Regions from separate parts of the Homo sapiens genome. Here region 1 is linked to region 2. The links come from fine-mapping of genetic effects on gene expression. Tissue or cell type: thyroid. Region 2 holds a variant in brackets; the other region holds the start of a gene. All regions are shown on one strand. Distances are from middle to middle.

Evidence for each region. PIP is the estimated chance that this variant, and not a neighbour inherited with it, causes the effect.
Region 1: SLC35F4-AS1 starts here. The variant in region 2 is fine-mapped to the expression of SLC35F4-AS1 in thyroid (GTEx, PIP above 0.99).

What each region holds. Positions count from the first base shown.
Region 1 is chr14:57,573,878-57,580,761 of GRCh38, reverse strand. It overlaps SLC35F4-AS1 (SLC35F4 antisense RNA 1), which reads right to left and starts at 2,429. Exons shown (of 2, transcript XR_007064193.1): 1 at 1,757-2,429. All of the region lies in intron 4 of SLC35F4 (solute carrier family 35 member F4), which reads left to right. It overlaps LOC105370519 (a long non-coding RNA gene), which reads right to left. Exons shown (of 5, transcript XR_007064194.1): 4 at 5,516-6,884; 5 at 2,482-4,464.
Region 2 is chr14:57,829,875-57,837,860 of GRCh38, reverse strand. All of the region lies in intron 1 of SLC35F4 (solute carrier family 35 member F4), which reads left to right. It also overlaps the pseudogene RN7SKP99. Among named protein-coding and RNA genes, the nearest start is that of SLC35F4, 32 kb to the left of the region's middle. The variant T/C (reference allele first, on the strand shown) is at 3,576.

The DNA.
Region 1 (6,884 bases), 260 kb after region 2:
ATTAAAGTCACTGGTAATGGCACAATGCTGTTAAAAGTGACTATATATCTAGTGTGACTAATGCAGAAATGGAAGTACAAGCAACAACTTCTTTTGGATACAAATCCTTAATTGAACTGCATTAAACTTCCACCAACAACTTCAGTTCTGAGTTTATTCCTTTCAGGAGTAATATGGATTAAAAACATATATATTTATATGCTTGTTCTATGTTAAAAATAGATTGCTGGGAAGCCCTGAAGATTTAAGGAGCCAGATCTCATTCATATAATCCGGCATGCCACTATGATGAACATATTGAGACAACACTTCTTTAGAAGGAGGTATAAATGAATTGCCTTTTCTCAGAGTATCAATATTACACAACTTATCTTCTCTGAAAGAGATGTCCAAGATAGATAGAATTTGAAACATATTTTGTTATAAAAACATTGCTCTTATTGGCAATGATTCCAAGGTCCTTTCCCCCTCCCAAATGCTGAAACTAATGTCTATGTTAGAGAGAGGGTTTATGATGGTCATTAACCCTGAAAGATTTTCTTAAGAAAACAGTTAGTTAGACAATTCTGATTGTATCTTGGGAGATGCTGCTCTGAAATTTAGAAATGAAGCTTCATATTAATAAGTAGAAAGTTTTGATAGAAGACAAAATCAGAAACTGTGAGTCAGTCCATGATACCATTACAGTATATCCAAATGTGACACTACATTCTTTACTGGCTTATCTTAGATTTGACCCCAAAGGGCTCAGCATCACATATTTATGTCTGGGGCACTGGTGCTGGCTGTCTACCATCAGATACCCTGACAAGTCCTTGAGAGCTGGAAGCTTTCCTATATTGTCCACTGTTCTTTTCAAGATCTGCTACATAATCCATGGGGCCCAGTGCAAAATGAATATTAATAATTTTAAGATAACAACAACAGAGCACTGAGCCAAGGGTGGGGACCTTCCAAGCACAAGGCCCTATATATCAACATAAGTCATCCCCTAGGAAGTCAGCTGTCTCTACTTCCAATGTCTAGAATATTACAGGGCACGAAGTGGGGGTTCGATTGATATTTGAGGATATAGTAAATGAGTTCATACTTCTGAGATCTTTCTTTTCACTGTCTTTCACTATCATGGACCACCCATAAGAACCTGGAGAGCCTTGTCAGAAGAGGGGAGAAGAGAGATTTGGAGGCTCTTTTGTTCTTTTAGTGGCGTGCAAATACCAACATTAAATCCATATTTTCACCATTAGATATACCAGCAATAAAATCCGTTGTATTAAAGCAAATGAGCACATTTAACTCATGGACCTCACTGATGCAAGAGGTTACGTCCAAAAAGGTACAGTGTTTATTTGAGGTATTTTAGAGAAAAAGAAAACAACTGTGTAACTTATCTTTAAATAGCAGATTTTAAAAATCAAAAATCTGCCTATAGGCTACCAACCATTGCCATTTAAAATTTGCCATCTGCAGTGGGTTGAGTGGTGACTCCAAAAAAGATCTGTCCACATCTTAATCCCCCAAATCTGTCACTGTGACCTTATTTGGATAAAGGGTCCTTGCAGATATTATTAACTTAAGGATCTTGAAAAGGGGACATCATATTGGATTATCTGAGTGGGACCTAAATCCAATAACAAGTGTCCTTATGAAAGACTCACAAAAGAGACACACACAGAAGAGGAGGTGGCGGCAATGTGATCACAGACACAGAGATTGGAGTGATGTGGTCACCAGCCAGGAATGCCGGGACACTCACCAGAACCCTGGAAGAGGCAAGGACTGTATCCTTCCTTAGAGATGCCTTTGGTCCCAGCTGTATTTTGAACTTCTGGCCTCCAGAACCGTGAGAGAATAAATTTCTGTTGTTTTAAGTCACCACGTTTGTGGTAATTTGTTACAGCAGCCTTAGGAAACTAATACAGCATCTGTAATTAATAACACTCAGTAGAGGAAATGTTAAATAGCTAATAAGTACTTGTTAATAAATATATCCATAAGTGAAGACATCATAGATAGCAGAATAGTAAGCATTAGTGTCAGGCATCCTGTAAAAATCAAATATTTTTCTTTTTAAGTAAGAGGAAGTGCTTCACTTCTCATTGTGAAACATTAGGACATGTTCAATGCGATGTTCCGGAAGAATGGTAACGTGTAATTTAATGATGCCCATAATCAGGCCATGGAATGTGAGAAGCACTGAAACATATTCAGCATTTTGCCTTTGACAGTATCAGCAATTATTTTCCTCCCAAGACATATTGAGAACACATATAATTAGGTCATTTGAGAAATTAAACGAGGGCAAACAGCACTGACAACATAAATGTAGCTCTTATTGCCCACATCTATAAATAATCTAAAGCATAGCCCCTCCAGATGTCATCCCACTGGACTACTCAAAAAAAAAAAAAAAAAAAAAAAAAAAAAAAAAAAAAACAGTTAAAGGGATGCTTTCAGTCATCAGATTAAAATTTATATTTCTAGTTCATGCTAAAGCATCAGTAGTTTAGAAACAGATGTTTGTTGGATTATAATTTTCATATGCTTAGCTCCCCAGGAATGAGCACATTTAAAATGAGAAGCTATGGCCTTCCCTACTTCTAATTTTTTTTTTTAATGTAAAAAGAACACCATGAACAGAGTGAAAGACACTTTAAGTTACAACATCATAAATATGGGTTTATCCGGACCACAAGTAGGCCAGAATTACTAATGCTCACATAAAAATGAATTATGTATTATGAATAACTTGCTAATATTTTGTTTCTTTTGAACACTGAATTACAGATGGAAAGGTAATCTGTTTTACATTTAGTATGAAGTCATTTCAGCCCATTTATTGGTAATCTATGATGTGTTATAAAAAGCCCTTTCATGAGCAAATTGCTTGCAGCTAATCTGTGATCATCCCATGAAAATTAGTAAACTTCTTTAAAAGATAATTTTTTGATTGCAAAAATGTTAGAAAGTGATAATCCAGCTCTTGCAGCCTTGAAAATAGGTGTTCTCCTGTCTCTCAGACCTTATTATGTTTAGCTAGAGTTCTTAAATTCGTAAGAACCAGAGAACCCACCTTAATTTTTTTTTTTTTAAAAAAAGGTTCTTCCCAAGGGGAATGTGCCACTGGCTGGGAGCTTTCTTCTCTGCTGTTGGTATCTGTTTTACACCAATGAAAAGTAGATGCCAGACTAGAATGGTAGAAACTTTCTTTCAGATTTTGTCCCTCTCTTATTTTTTTATACTATTCATTCAAATTTTTCTTATATTTTCCAATTTCCTTGAAGATATGGAGAATGTTGGTGGTTGGTGGATGGTTCAGCAGATCCCAACTGTCTTAGCAGACTGTGAAATGCATTAGTGTCCCTCTGGCTTGGGAGCCACATATTTTCCAGCTATATTTGGGTCCCTGTGCAGTTAGTTAGCTTCCCAAACTATAGCTGTTTTCAAAGACTTTCCAGGATCTACCAAAAACTGACTGAAGTACATCAGTTAAACTGAATCTTTCATGGTATAGCATATACTTCTTTGAATTCAAATTGGGCCCCTGAAGGCTAAAACAGTACATTGGAGCTGAGCTGCTACTGATTTATGCTGATATTAAATATTAAGAATTAAGATGACACGTAACTTGACAATTTGTTTCCATCTTGCCTTTGGCTCCTCTTTATTCATGTGCAATGCAGAATTCTCTGCCCAGAGCTTCCATGCTTCCTGGAAGAGGCAGTGGAGGATGGACAGTGGGAGTCATCCTCCCTCTTACCCCTATCTTGGCAGGACAATGACTTATGAATATAGCCAAGAGAGGAGACAGCTGGGTTGTGCTGGCTGTCCGATTTTACACCCTCAAGGAATCTGTAACCCCTTCAACATGGTGCAGTCAATGTGTCTACCCTCCACATATATCCTTCACTCTTTCTTCGTGGGATTTCTTTACAACTTTGACATCCAGGTCTCCCTCTGAGATCATTTTCAAATGGATTTTATTCAGATAAAAATCCATGCATGTAGGGAGAGGGGGAGTTCAGAGGCCCAGCATCCCTTGGGTTTGCTGCTATCCAAGGTACCCCCCTTCCCCCTGTCACACACAGCATCTGGACAGCTATAGATTGCCACACCTCTTATTTTTCACATTTCAGCACTTGTTCAGTTTAATTGAATCTGAGTAAAAAAGAAAGTTTTCCATAGAACCTTAAATATAACATATGCAGAAGTTTAAGGATTCTGTATAGCCATAGTTCCTTGAAAATCAACTGTATCTAAATTTACCCAGAGAGATAATCATTAGCATGTTTCTCATTCGTCAAACTATTAATGTGTGTCCCAACCTCAACTACTGACCTTTAGTCTTCAACTTGAGCACAGCAGCTGCCAGCAGTGTGGTCTGAGATCTGCATTTTTAGGGGCTGCTGTAGGCTTTGGAATTCAAGGGTTCATTTGTGAACCAGCTGCTTCATACTCACCTAGCTTCAAGAAACAGAATTAGCCTCAAGGCAAAGTAAGGAAACATGTTTGGATTATAATCAGTCATCTTGACCTTTAAAATCTTAAAGGAACACTGTAGGAAGAGAAGCAACTAAAGGTTCATCCAATGCCTTGGACCCTAAAAGAGCTGGTACTGTTATGCAAATAAGAATTGTGAAAACCATCTGTGAGTGGGAACCATAGTGAATGGGATCAGGTTGATAAACCCTCATGGAGATGCACAGAAGGACCAAACCTTTGTGGGCTTTTGATGGCCCGAGCCAAAAGAGAAAAAGAAAAAAGAAAAAAAAAAGATACAAGAAAACAAAAACGGCCAAAAGCCAGATATTTCTTTAGGCTTTATCTGTACAAACTAATTATTTGAAAGATAAAAGAAACACCCTCCATGCAGGGTCACAGGTAGCATTTAGTACAGTGAGATCACCAAATGTCCACTGGTAAAGCCCTCTTTGGGCTTTAGGAACAGGCTCAAATGGCCACACGGATCCCTTCTGATTGGCTCTGAAAATTAGTGCAGAGAGCTGTCTGAGGGCCCCAGCCTGCAGAGGAAGATAGCTGGCTCACGAGGCCATGCCACTCAACTGGCATGCTGAGATAATGGGCTAAATAAATCCTCTTCCTTCAATGACTCACCCCAGGTGGGCACACCACAATGTGTGAGGGCAGAGAGGTTTAAACATTTTAAATGGAGGCATTGGCAGTTTTATGGTCACTATGGTTACTAACATTCTCACCTAAGCCAGGTTCAGATAATGGTAATGGTGAGTTTTTTTTTTCCCCATCTTTTTTGTTTGTTTTTGAGACAGGGTCTAATTCTGTTGCCCAGGCTGGAGTGCAGTGATGTGATCTCAGCTCACTGCAACCTTCACCTCCCAGATTCAAGAGATTCTCCTGCCTCAACCTCCCGAGTAGCCGGTATTACAGGCATGTGCCACCAAAGCACGGCTACTTTTTATATTTTTAGTAGAGATGGGGGTCTCGCCATGGTTGGCCAGGCTGGTCTCGAACTCCTGACCTCAAGTGATCCACCCACCTGGGCCTCCCAAAGTGCTGGAATTACAGGCGTGAGCCACTGTGCCTGGCCTAGTTTTCCATCTTATTTAGACACTTCTGGTTGGTTAAGAGGCTGGAACTGGAATAGATTGTCAAGAGACAGATTTTTCAGAAGCCGAGCAGGTGGCACCACTAGATGGTGTATTTTCAGCAGAAGAATTCCTCTCATGGATGTTAATGTGTCCCAGGAGCACTTTAGTGGTTGTCTTCATGTGAATGAACACATATGAGCATTTTTGACACAATATTTTAGGCACTGGCTTCCTGCAGACACATTTCCAGAAAGCTGAGGCCAAGAAGAGTCGTTTTGTGTTTTTCTGTTGAGAAGAACAGAGTATTAATCCCTCTTTGATGACTGATTGATTCTGAAAATGTGTGTGACTGATACGTGCTTAGGATATTTGTTCTCCAGACATCTAAAGAGTATTTACTCTCTAAAGTTAAACCAGTGGTGCCAAGCAGAGCCATTCTGAGATCACCCAAACAACCACTCCACAATTTTTCCTCATTTTCAAGATTAGTTGAGATCTCTTCCTTCACTTACAACAGTATAGATAAGAAATATATTTAAAATTTCTTAAAATATAGCCATAGAGAATTTGACCTATCAGATATTTTTGAAATTTAAACTAAAATGTGGCAAATAATTTATCTATTCCCACTATACCCTCCACCCGCACCCTGCCCCAGGAACATACTATATAACTTATGAATTACTGCTCATGTCATGGAGAATTTTTCTAACATTTCAAATATTCAGATTTTCATTCTTTCAGAACTTAACAGCATTGTCTGACCCCCTAAAGTGAAAAATGCTTCTCTCTGTGAAGGCAATTGAAAGAGACACTGCTGTAATTGACATGTCAATTTAAGTGGTCCAGGCTAATATTTTCACAAGCACTTGAATATAACGAGTAATGAAGATCTTTAAGAGGCTCACTATGGTTATAATTTTGAATTGCTACAGAGTTATGTAATCTTTACCCATGTTCAATTCCTATCTTGAGGAAACATAATAGAAACTTTATGCATATCTATTTTTACTAGTAGCTAACTCAGAAAAGGAAGAGTTCCTACCTGTGGTCATATCTTGGGGATAATGAAACCAACTGCCTGTCCTTTTCTAGACAGGATTTTGTTTTGTGCTTTGGGGTTTTTTAATTGGTTTTCACAATTTTCTAAACCCAGAATTACATACTACAGTGTGTAATTGCCTAAACCCATGTATTATGTATTATAGAATGCTTTTAATAATTTAAAATATAAAATAGCACATCATGTGAAAGTTCGTTAGGATTTACAGTTTTGTTAGCCTTGGCTTCAAGTAACCGCTTGTTTATTTGACCTAG
Region 2 (7,986 bases):
GGAAGGGGAGGTGAGCAGTATTCTGAAAAATGTCTTATTTTGGCATTTCTTGAAGAATTGGTAATTTATTCACAGAAAAGAGTGCTTATGAGGAAGGACGCTCTAGAACCTGGCACAAAAGCCCCTTTCTAGGGAAGATTGGCTTTGGAGAAGTGGGGGGTATCTTGGGTGACAGTGATGGTTCAAGAAATGATGGTATGATATGTGACGGTCATCAGGATGTGACATCAGTCACCTCATTGATAGCAAGGTTCTATTCAGCCGGGTTGGCTAGGTTAAGTCCCCTTCCTCTCCTATACGCACGTGTGGTCCCTATCCCAGAAGCTGTGAGATTGGTCAAAGCAAGTGGTCTTTCCAATTGGAGGAGGTCTACCCTTGGTCAAAGGCATGCGAGTCTGTATGCTCCCCTATTGGAGCACTAGGAGAACTACAGTATTTGAGCCAAACAAACTTTCAAGAAATTTGAAAGTGGCTCAGTAAGTTGTGGGACATACAGGTTGTCCGTTTCTCCATCATACCTCCCTTCTGCTCTTTTCGCTGCTAGAAAAATTCTTCGCAATTAGGAATTCCATCAAGCCCTAAATTCTTTGATGATTCCCTGTAACAGTGTCTCTTGAAGTGTGGGACAGATATTCCTGGTTAAATGCAAGATTTAGGTGGTACTCAGACATGGTGTTAAATAATTTTAAATTACACAGTGAAAAATTTATTTCATTTTAAGTTCCCTTTCAATCCTTCTCCTTCTGACAATGAGGATGTATAAGTGGAAGACCAGTGTAACATTTTCTAATCTCAGTTTTTAGTAAGGAGAAGAGCCTTCAAGCTAAGTGTTCCAATTACAAGCATATCATGCCATAATGTTAATAACATTTTCTTTTAAAAATTTGTGGCAAATTATTTCAGTTTTTAATATATGACAGTGATGTAAAATTTTAATGTTCTGGATGTAAGATGATATTTAGGAATTGTTATTAATTTTTTTAGGTGTGATGATGGCGTTATAGTCATTATCCTTTACAGATACAAATTATATATAGATGGAAAGATATAATGTCTGTGATCTGCTTAAAGTAATTCAGGAAGGGTGTGCTTGTGTGTGTGCTGATGGAGGTGGAGGTAGCGGTGGTGCTTAGGGGAGTACAAAGGAAACAAGATTGGTCATGGGCTGATATTTGCTGTGCTGAGTACATGTAGATTAATTATACTATTGTCTCTATTGTGTATATTTCAAAGTTTTCATAAGGAAATGTTTGAGTTAAAATAAAATTTCAGGCCGGCGCAGTGGCTCACACCTGTAATCCCAGCACTTTGGGAGGCTGAGGCAGGCGGATCACGAGCTTAGGAGATCGAGACCCTCTTGGTCAACATGGTGAAACCCCGTTTCTACTAAAAATACAAAAATTAGCTGGATGTGATGGCGCATGCCTGTAGTCCCAGCTACTCGGGAGGCTGAGGCAGGAGAATCACTTGAACCAGGGAGTCGGAGGTTGCAGTGAGCTGAGATCGCGCCACTGCACTCCAGCCTGGTGACAGCGAGACTCCATCTCAAATCAATCAATCAATCAATCAATAAAATAAAAAATAAAATTTCAATGTTAAATAAGTTGATTAATATGGAACAATAAGTGAGTTCAGAGAAAAACTATTAAGCAAATAAGAATAATATGGGTGGTATGTAGGTAAGTCATTAGTTAAACTACTGAAGTCTGCAAAACACTGGCTGCTGGAAAACATTCAAGCTTCTCATTGAGAAATCAAAGGTCCTTCCTGCTACAGGCCTTTCTCACCTCCTTTCTTGCCACTTTGGATTGCAATAATACCAGGTCACCGGTAGTTCCTAGTGTGCCATCCTCTCACAACCTGCATCTTGATGCAGATGGTTCTGTTTCTTGGAATGTTTCCCAAATGTGTTGTTTAGAAAATTCCTGCATTCTTTAACTCTCAGCCCAAACAATGGAAATTAAAAGAAAGGAACATTCTGAGAACTCTGAAAGAGCTGAAATCATTTGGAGACTAGACATGGCTTGATGCCAGAATAAGAAGGAGCCAAGGGTAACACTTAGGTTTTAACATGGCAACTTTGACAGACTAGCGAGGCTGGAAGGAGAGAGGTGTTCGTGGGTGATCAGTGCTAAATTAAATTTTAGGCATGTTGAGTTTGGCCTGTCCTCCAGGACTCCAAATTATTACTAGCAGCAGAAACTGGGCAGGGGTCATTCCTCTCCAGCCAACTCTTGAGTCCTCAGTAATTACATGACAGAAATGTTATAGAGTCCTTTTGCTCCTCTTTCTCTTTCTTGTCAGTCACATTTTGCGTATTGTTCTGCTGACAATGAGAAAGAGCAAAAGAAGGGAGAGGATGTGAAAAGCAAATCAGTCATTTGTTGCTTTTTAGGAGTGTTGAGAAAGTCTTGGGGGTTGGGAGAGTTAGAAACTGTTGATTTATGCAAATTTTTCCATTATGACTGACTTCTGATTATATTTCCCATCCACTGTTTTATCTGACTTCCAATTGTTGAGAAGTAGCTGTATTAATGTGGCTTCACCACAGCTTGTGAACTGCAAGGACTCACTGGAGACATACTATAGGACCTACTTGGACTCTGTATCCTTCCAAATGAGTTGGTGTCTGGTGAGGAGGAACAATATGATTACAGGATCTGAAGGAGATGGGAGGGGCCCTTTTCTTCAAGCACGGGTTGCCCCATGGGCACAGTGAATAACACTGGTTCTATTTTCATGTTTCTGTGGCAAACAGCAACTTCTGTATTGGTCTGTTAATACTTCAACCATTCTAGTTTGGTTATTTTTGTTTTGTTTTGTTTTGTTTTTGAGACAGAGTCTCCCTCTGTTACCCAGGCTGGAGTGCAGTGGTGCGATCTCGGCCCACTGCAATCTCTGCCTTCTGGGTTCAAGCAATTCTCCTGCCTCAGCCTCCTGAGTAGCTGAGATTACAGGCATGCACCACCATACCTAGTTAATTTTTGTAGTTTTAGTAGAGATGGGGTTTCGCCATGCTGGCCATGCTGGCCATGCTGGTCTCGAACTCCTGACCTCAGGTGATCCGCCTACCTCGGCCTCCTAAAGTGTTAGGATTACAGGCATGAGCCACTGTGCCCGGCCTATTTTGGTTCTCTGAGAAGCAATTTTTATACTGACATGCTGGATAGGAAGGATTTGATCTAAAAATAACATTGTTCTTTCATCATACTGGGACTTCCATTAAGTGAATGACGGTTTAGTTATACCATTGTCCTTTCTAACACCTGTCCTAATATCTCCCCTCCCTTCACTGGCAACAGAAATTAGGTACCAGTTCTACTGAGATGTTTTGCAATTGTCATCATTTTACTTTGTAAGCAAAAAGCATGTTTTTCTTTGTATTTCAAACTAAGGAATGCATGATTACCACTTTGGACCTCCTTGTGAGCATAAGATTTTACACTATTTGCACTGTAATAATTTATGACATTTTTATAGCTTACTGTTAGGGCTTGTACAAAGTAGAAGGAATGAATCTGTAGAGAAAAAAGAAAAAAATGAACACACCAATGTGCTGTAGTTATTCAGTGAAG[T/C]GCAAAATCTTGCAGGAGTTAGTTTTGTTTGAAACAGATTTTACTTCTCAGTACCCACTCTTTCTCAATTTTTACCAACTCAGTCCTTTTGGTGTTGACATTTTGTACTCTGGAGTTTTAAGATGTCATGCTTCATGACTTGTTCTCTGGGAAAGTGTTTCTTCTTGAAATGTCGGGTTGCTCTCATCTTAGGTGGAGTTTGGGGTCAGCCTTTGTTATTATTTTAATTTATAGACTTTTAATAATGAGGGTTGTTTCATTTGTGTTTCACTTAATTCAGCACAAGGTTTTGTAAATAGCCTCAGATTTATTTTAACATGTGAAGAGAGGGAACAAAAAGATTCCTATGGTAAAATTAAACATTTTCTCAAATTGAGGCTGTTGCTTGGTTTCTGTTCTTGTTAACGTGCATTTAAAAAATTATTTTCTGTGAAGCTAGTCTTCATAAAGGTGATTTGTGAATATATGAAAATGCAAGAGATGCACTAAAGTTGCAGTCTCCATGGTATATTTAAATATGCCAACAGCTACCCTAATGAGCAAATTTAGCATTTATCCAAATTGGAAAGCCAACGGGAGATTAGCTATGGCCATGGCTGGAGTCTGTATTCAAATATTCATTTGATATTGGTTGTAACTCCGGTGTATCCTCCTGATGTTGTGGATAGATTTATGCCTGTCAATTGAGGAGAGCATTTCTCACTCTCTGATATGCATCTGAGTCACCCAGGGGAGGTTTTTTGAAGTGAATGTCTCCCAGGCCTTGAGCCCCAGAGATTCTGAGTCAGTCATTCTGGGACAGAGCCCAGTCTTCTGTGTTTTGATTCATCAGAATCACCTGGGGAGCTTTTACAACATACCGATGGCTGGGCTCTATCCCAAAACACTGACTCAGATCCTCTGGGGGTGCAAAGCCTGGGTAATCTGTACTGATTTTCAGAAAAGAATGAAAATACCAAAATTATCTAGCAGAGATGGTCCTTTACAAGCATCATTTAATGTCACAGGATGTGCAGAGCTAGGGATAGGGTTAAGGTAATCTCATTAGGGACCGTGAAAGAATATGAGAATTCTGTCTGTCTTTAGTGAGATTGCCTTGCGATTAGATGATAACAAGGATGATGATGGTGACAATGACAACAACGTGACAGTAAGCTTTATACCAGTCATGCTTTTACTAGCTCTAAATAGAGAACTTTTGTTCTTGTTCTTTATGCATATGTGATTTTAGTTTGCCTAATTAATGTTATTTCAGGGACACCTGCTCTCGTGTTCCTACAATATTTATCATTAAAGAAATGAACAAATTCTCTAGCAATTATGAGGACTTGGAAAGAATAAAAGTACCCTGGGTCGTGTTGGCTAGGCTGACAGAAAATAATACCTGAAATATTTCACCACGTTTTCTCAAGGGCAAATTTACTGTAATGTGAAAAAATTTTTTATCAGTGAGTGTAATTTTACACATGAATTACAGTTCCAGCATTCTATTTTCAATTGCTATGTTTACTGCATCAGAAATGTATAGGGAATTTGTGTTCTCTTTTCCCTCATCTCATTTGTAGAGCCAGAACATGCAAAAATTGGAGTTGGTAAAAGTATTGTGCTAGGAAGATCAGGACTTTAGTTATCATTCTCTGTTTATTGTTTCTAATAAATTGTATTGTATATATTTGAGGTTTACAACACAATGTTATGGGATACATATAGATAGTAAAATAGTCCTGTCATAAAGCAAATTAACATGTCTATCATCTCACATAGTTACTTCTTTTTGTAACAAGAAAAGCTAAAATTTATTTATTAACAAAAATACAATATAATTTTCTTAACTATAGTCCTCATGTCATACATGAGATTCTAGGCTTGTTCATCCTACATATTCTTCTTCTATGTATTAATCTGTGACTTTGGACAAGCTACTTAAAGTCTTAGGGTCTTATTTTCCTCATGTATAAAGTGTTAATAATTTATCTGAAGGCAGGTGACTAGAGCAGTTAAACTCTTGAAGCCCATTCTGCTGCAAGTTCCTGTACTGAGTCTGCGGAAGGCAGAGGTGTGGCTAAGGCAACGTCAAGTGATGTGGGGTGGGCCGGGAGGGAGGGGCTTCAGAGCTCAGGAAGGCTGTATGTGCCTCCTAGCGTCCTTCAACCCTGGCCAACTTCTCCAATCTTGCTCCTGGTTGCTATGGTTTTTCCACATCTTCTGGTTTGTAGATTCATGAATTTATTAAATAATACGTGATAAAGCCTCAGTGGGACTCCTGAGTCATTTGTGAGGGATTAAAGACAATTTTACAGAGTTCTTTGCTGGCTTGGAGAGTTGCAGTGCTCAAAAACATGACTTGTGAAGACACGGATATACACTTATGATTAGGAAGCATTTTAGTAAAACATTCATGACTATTTCCTGCATTTCTATGGAAAAATAAATTCAATCACAGTAGGGTTTTTCACTTCATTGCTTATTAGAATGCATTCTTCTGCCTGGATAATATAAAGATAAAGTTAATGTTTCTTCTGTTTTGCAAAGGTGTTATTGGACCCACAAATATGCTCTGGTCTCTCAAGGAGAAAAAAGCTCCAAGGTTTTCACTCTTTAAATTACTGAAATAAAGGGAAATGATTACATGGTAATATTCCCTCTTGCTGCTTGAGAATTCCACAGAAAACAATAACACAGGATAGATTATTTACTGTGGCAGTTTGTGAAACATAGATTGCTGCTGTACTGCAAATTCTGCTTATCTCTTAAGAGCTGTCTGTACTGGGTGGCTTTAGTTTGTCCCTCCAGATTCACGCTTGGCCCTTCTCCACCCTCCTCTGTCCTGGGAGGCTATGCTGTATGCCTGCGTCTATCACTGTCTTGGTCAGCTTGGGCTGCTATCACAAAATACCAAAGATTCTGTGGCTTAAACATTGACATTTATTTCTCACAGTTCTGGAGGCTGGGAAGTCTAAGATCAAGGTGCCAACAAACTCTGTGTCTAGTGAGGGCCCTCTTTCCGGCTTGCAGAGGCTGCCTTCTCACTATATTCTCACATGGCAGGGAGAGAAAGATATTAGAGATACTGTGGAAGGAGAATGGTAGAACTTGGCATCTGTAAGAAGTCAGGAAAGGAATGGGAGGAATCGAAAATCACCTCCCTGCTCTGCTGGCCTGAGTGATTGGTGCAGAGTAATGGTGTAGAAACAGAAATGGGAACACAGTGAAGAAATCAGAGTTGAGAGAGAAGATGATAAATTCTGACAGAGCATGCATACCATGTCCCACCAGCATTCAAGAGCAGGGATGCATTCTATTTCATTTTTGCACCCCCAGTGCTTCAAATAAGTGCTGGTGTTCTCTATACAAGTGCTGTTGAACTTGCTCCACAGGTAGTCTGTGCAGAAATGGGCACTGTGTTCAGTTAGGGTGAATTTCTGATAAATTGGCTCTGGGTTTTTGATTTTGGGGTCACAGAGAAAGTGTAAAAAGAGTGTGTGATTCTTTGTCTTGCAACACCTCCAGCCATGGTCTGTTTTTGTAACCAGTGACAGCTTCCCTCCTCATAGATAAAGTTGGTATTTTACAGAATATATCAGGCATATACCATTTTCCCATTGAAGGTAGGTGGTCTGAAACTGAGATCTGAGCAGAGCCATCCAGAACCATATTGGCTCATTTAATTATGAGATTTTAAGTTATAGGCTTCATAAGTGAGTTTCCAATCACTTTGCTCTTTAAATTTTCAATCTTTCTCATGCTAGACTTCAGGTTTTCTAAGAAATATCTTTTAGGATTTCCATAGCATAACATAAAATTGGGTTGTAACTTCATATTTGGGGCATATTCTAAGTTACTCTTAGACTGTAAGAAGTATTTCTCTTGTCCGAAGCTAGGGAGATCCAAATAAAAATCTCCTCGGATATTATAAAGGAAGTGGTAGTTAACATACATTATTTCATTTAATCCTCACAGTGACTCAATGAGGTGGCATTACACCACATTTTCTCCGTTTTACAGATCACGAAACCAAGGATTACAGAGATTGATCAATTTGACCAAAACCACACAGTTGAAATGTTACAAAGCTGAAAAAAAGGCAACATATGTGAAGAGGAAATAATGCTACATAAACACTTTCTTTTGGAGTAGTATTTCTAGATTTTACTTCCATTACTTTTTTTTTGTAGGTAGCAGACAATGTATTGGAATATTTTTGTAAAGTTAAAAATTATATACTTTTTTCTACTCTTCAAAATTAAAACTGTAGAGGAATGGAAATAAGTTTTATTCTTGCTTATACACTCTCTTCTCTTTTCATTCCAATTTGCATTTAACTGCAAGATTATTCTTCCTGCTGTGTTTTTTCCATAAAGTCACTCTCCTGTTAAAAAACCATGAGTGATTTCCCATTGCTTATAAAATA